2 separate regions of the Homo sapiens genome follow, and region 1 is linked to region 2. A link means that fine-mapping ties the variant in region 2 to the expression of a gene that starts in the linked region. Tissue or cell type: whole blood. Region 2 holds a variant in brackets; the other region holds the start of a gene. All regions are shown on one strand. Distances are between the middles of the regions.

Evidence for each region. PIP is the estimated chance that this variant, and not a neighbour inherited with it, causes the effect.
Region 1: EDN1 starts here. The variant in region 2 is fine-mapped to the expression of EDN1 in whole blood (TOPMed, PIP above 0.99).

Annotation. Positions count from the first base shown.
Region 1 is chr6:12,288,786-12,291,470 of GRCh38, reverse strand. It overlaps EDN1 (endothelin 1), which reads right to left and starts at 1,110. Exons shown (of 5, transcript NM_001955.5): 1 at 778-1,110. The coding sequence starts at 841. RefSeq lists enhancers at 1,178-1,247, 1,258-1,357, 2,501-2,685.
Region 2 is chr6:12,086,929-12,089,613 of GRCh38, reverse strand. It overlaps HIVEP1 (HIVEP zinc finger 1), which reads right to left. Exons shown (of 9, transcript NM_002114.4): 3 at 377-430. Among named protein-coding and RNA genes, the nearest start is that of HIVEP1, 76 kb to the right of the region's middle. The variant G/C (reference allele first, on the strand shown) is at 1,229.

The sequences.
Region 1 (2,685 bases), 200 kb before region 2:
AAAAAAAGTGCACTGACCCTAAAAACGGGGGGGACCCGGGCAGATGCACACGCACTGCCTAAATCCTTCGGCAGCCAAGAATTATCCTAGCTCCCCTCCCAGCACAGGTGAATAAAGCTGAAAAGAGAGCTCACACTGTTTTGGGTGCCAAAAACCTGCCAAAAGAAACCTAAAGTCAATGATGACAAATTTTAAAGAAAACATCTGCTTCACCCAGAAACCGCCTGCGGGGGGTGGTGGCGGGGGGGGGGGGAGGCGGTAGTTAGTCAACAGACTTTTGCTCTGCAGGTGATTTTACTGAACATACATTGCTTGAACGACTGGATACAATTCCTTGGCTTCAAGCTGGAATGCTTAAATATTTTACACGTTAACACACTATTAAAATAGTGTTTAAATAAGATTTAAGTTCCTATATGGCCTGTGTACCTGTATAAACACATATATTACAAACATACATTTGACTAAATTGTATATGTCCATACTCTTCTCATTTTTTAAAAGCCAAGGAAACACATAATGGAATAATAATAATAAAACGATAAGTTATTTTAATGTCATGTTATAGTCAATTGCACCTAATTGTATTCAATAGAGGAATTTTACATTTTACACTAGAAGACTTAAAGTAGCTTTCAGCAATAATTCTCAGACACTTGCTCTCTAAGCTGCAGTCATAAAAAGAACGGGGAAAAATAGAAGCAAGAAAAGCATGAAGGTGGATAAGAACACACTAACTTGTAATTCCGAGACTTACAAGTCAACGAGCGTGCCTACCTGTTTCTGGAGCTCCTTGGCAAGCCACAAACAGCAGAGAGAAAATCATGAGCAAATAATCCATTCTGAAAAAAAGGGATCAAAAACCTCCCGTTCAAACTGAACCCAAAGGAAAACGAAGAAAAACAGCTTCAGGTCCCTCAAAGCGCTGCGGGTTCCTCAGATCTCAAAGCGATCCTTCAGCCCAAGTGCCCTTTTAACGGGGAGAAAAGGCAGCGCCTGCCAGGAGAGAAGGCAGCGAGCGGAGCGTCTGCAGGCGCACGCGGCGGTGGAGAGCTGGGACTGCAGGAGGCGCAGGACCCGTTCGCCTGGCGCAGATGCAGAGGCGCGTCTGACTTGGACAGCTCTCTGCCGGCTTTTTATATTGAACCCCTATTAGAGTGGGGGTAAACAGCTCCGACTTTATTCCAGCCCCAGACAATGTTATTGTGTTATTAGTCACCAACAGGCAACGTGCAGCCGGAGATAAGGCCAGGCCCGAAAGGAAATCACTGCTAACTTCAGAGGCAGACGCCCGCCGTCTGACAATTCGGGGGCAGGGCTAAGAAAAAGAAAATACCCATTAGAGACCTTTGCTAAACCTGCCCGTGCAGTGCTGGAGTCCGCTTCCCCTTTGCAAGCTGCCAGCCCCGGAGTTCAAGAATCAGAAGAGGGGACTCCAGAAAAAAAGTCATACCATTGGTATGAAAAGTATGAGCCACAGTTTAAATAGATTGTATTGTTGTGTGCGGGGAATTTTTTTTAATTGTTGCTCGCTTCATTTTCCTTTTATGTCTCTCCGATTCTAGTCTCAGTCAAACAAGGGAATGCTCTCCCTCGTCACTGCCCCACTACTGGGGGTCAGACTATTTTGGCAGATCAACGTACTTTTCTCTTCAAGCCCCTTCCTGCGGGTCTTTTTTGCTGAAGTTCTTTGCATCTATCGGAGAAAGATCCGTGAGGGATTGGCAAGAAAGGGAGCTTAAAAATAACATCAGAGCTCGTTTAGGCACATGCCCAGTCTTTTCCCTATCACTGATGAGAAGCCCCGATAAGTTCTTTTGTGTGTCCACACTTCCCCTGCGGAGGAGGCTGATAAACTGATTGAAAAGCAAAGGTGTTTTTCACACAGAACTTAAATCTTAAGATTGGTCGGTGCCACCAATCTTAAGACATGGCGGGAGAAGAACACCAGGGGGAGATGAAGAGCTACAGGGGCTGATGTTTTACTAGGACAAAAAGGAAAACCCTTCTAAATGGCAGAAAAAAACGCAACCTGGCTTGGGGGCCGAGGAGGGTCAAGGAATGTTGCCTAACATAGGAAGGAGGAATGCACCTCAGAATATTCTATTTATTCCCCGCACAAGCAGGGACATATTTTCTGGGACTCTTTTTTTTGGGGGGGTGTCTTCATTTAGGGCAAAAAGGTGTTCTTGTACAAGGTTAAGTGAATATGCAAGGAAGGTGGTGCTGAGAAGGAAATGCCATTCGAACAAGGAATCAGATAATACTTCACATTTAATAATGTGTTTACATTTTCAAAACAATTTCCTGTCTATCTAACCTTGAAATCCCCCCCTGAAGTACACACAGGGCAGTTACTGTACAGGTGACATCATGCCTTAATAAAGAAAGCAAAAGGTGCATGGAACACATTGGCTTTTTCCGCTAGTCCCATTTTTCAGGTTAGACAACTGAGCACCCAGAATTTTTGTTTGTTCTCCACCAAAGCGCTCACAGTGGCCCAGTAAGACCTATGGGATAAATTTAGAGTCTCTTCCCAGGGGATGCCATCAAATACACACTTTGTCCATCTCCTCTTTTTGTTTTACTCCAGTTTTTCTGGGGATGGAGGGTGGAATTCAAGCACGGATGAATTTCCAAGACTGGCACAACACACATGCTGGGAAACCTTTTTTCCCTCCTCCT
Region 2 (2,685 bases):
AAAAAAAAAGAAAACTGCATCACATGAATGCACACATGAACACACATGCATGGACACGGCCAACTGTGTTCCTTATATTGGTACTTTTATTGCTACAGGACAGTCTCACAAACAGGACTTTCAAAAGAGCTGCAATAACCTTTCACACTTCTACCAGTCATACATTAATATGTGGGAAACAGTTATAGAATGTGCTATGTGGCTAAAATGTTTCATGAAGCAAAGTCCACAACATTTTAAGTATCAATAAGTTCAAGGGGATTTCTAATTTTGTGATATGTCTATACTGATTTATTTCATAAGGCTACATTTATGAGGTATATGTATAGGCATCATTGCAAGAATAAAGTTTACATTCAAGCTGATTTTAATTTACCTTTTTTTGAAACTTCTGCCCCATTAAGTTCTTTTTGTGCTTCTTCAATTTTGTCTAAGAAAAACAGAGAAAAATTTATAAATTAATTTACCTTAAACAAATAAGAGTACAGTAAAGCAAACATACTACTTTTAAACAGTGTCAGATACCTAGTAAAAAATGTGTTGAATAAATTATGATACAGATGTGTATAAACTGTTGAAGGATATATTCCCTTTTAAATTCATAATTTTAATCATTTCTTAGTCACAAGGACTATTTCCAATTAATAAATGTTTCCATAATGCAAATAATTAGTACACTTTAGATACTGAACTACAGCTTTAAAAGTCTAGTCATCTAATCAAAGTATCTAAAAATAATACTATCTTTACATACAAAGTACCTAATAGGGATTTTAGAGATATAACAAATGCTTACTAGCTTAGAAACAACCAGATTAAGCAAAGCTAAGACTTAAGACAGAAGACAGAAAAGGATGGAAAAACAGAGACGAGGATGAGCTGAAATATGGCATGGCAGAAAGTGTCTATATCCCTTGCTGGCAGCATAGAGCTGACAGCATCTATGAAGTATGAGGACAGAGTACTGCATTCAAGAGGTACTATACACAACTCACTGCAGAACTGCTACACATGTGCACAGTTTTGTCAGACAGATGTAACCCAGGAGCAATAACTAAGAGAATTGGGAGCAGTGCCTTGCTCCTGCTGTTCTTTGACCTGGGGCTCTGGGCACAACTGGATTTTGTAAATATGTGCATGCTCTATTTCAATAATAATTAATTTAAACTTTATAAGGATATACATACTTCATGACATGGGCAGTAATCGATTCCAAATTTAACACACT[G/C]GTCTAGGTACTTATTAAAATGGCAAAAGGAACAAATTCCCAGGGTACTATTTTGTACTGAACTGAAGACAATATTGATAATTATATAACATTCTACATATCCCAAATGTGTAAGTACAATTTAAATAAACGCATCAGCTCAGAAGTTGTCTCCAATGCTGACCCTACCGCTGCTCACTGGCCATGGAAGATGTAACCTCCAATATGGTATCCTACTCCAAATAAATAAAAGGCAGACACCGCACACCATGGGCCCTTCAAACTCTGATCTACCTGCCTCTCTCCCTATCTTGCCAGAAAGGCCAAGAAATTCAGAGAACCTTCTATTTACAGATCAAACGTCTTTCAATTGCATATTGATCCAACTTGCCAAGGCAAAGTGGGAGAACAGAACAAAGGAAGCAAGCTAGTTTGAAATATAGGACATTACATCTCAACAATAGTCAAAAATAACTAAATTTTCATCCTGATAAATGTATCGCCCACAGCAATGTCTTATTTGCTTCCTGCGAATTATCAGATCCAGAATATAATTTGAGAGTAGTACAGGCAATCTTTGGAATAAGACAATTTTTCTTATTTATAAACTTTAGTTACTGCTCATGAAACGATGAGTGAAGTTGAAATAGTCCTGGAAAAAAACACACATTAAATGCAGAAACTGGATCCTGTGCTCAGTGGTAGTTTTGCTTCAGACAGAAAAATATGGAATGCTTGCATGAAATCCGTATTAACACAGTGTAAGTAACAAAAGGCTAAGACCCACTTTTAAAAAACGAAATACATGAATTACCTGCAGATTTTCAAACTATAAATAATAAACAAATCACATAACATATAGTACTTGAAAAACATGTAAAAGGACTTTTATTACCAAAGCACTATTATTTCTATGCCAGTAATTCACCCAAACTTAAGAATCATAAATAATATATATGTATTATATATTCACAGTAGTAACAACTGTGCTTAATAGTTTATGTGCACATAATTTTGCATTATATAATCAAAACAACTTTTCTTAATAGAATCAGTTGTGGCTTAAAGCAACAAGAACTCATGATTAACAAATACTTACAGAATAGCTGTTGTTAAGTAATTGAAGTTTGGCCACTTTCTGTTTGCACTTCAACATAACAAAACTCTTACAAAAATAACTTGTTTATATCTGCTTACAAAATACTAGTCTCTGCTTTTAAAATTTTCAACTAAGTTACCTTTTTATCTTGATAATAACAGTATATAAATTTAGACTACTGATTTAGGACAGCTACTACAATAAATATAATAAGTACCTCCTCAAATGCTTCTACCTATAGCTCCACGTCAATAGGTAAACAATCTCCAATTAGCTTGTAACAGCCATTATAAAAGCTTTTGCTTTGGGCAAGTTTTATTACAATTCCTGTTTATATTTAGTGTGTTTTTATAATTCTCCTGGTAAATATGATGTGTTT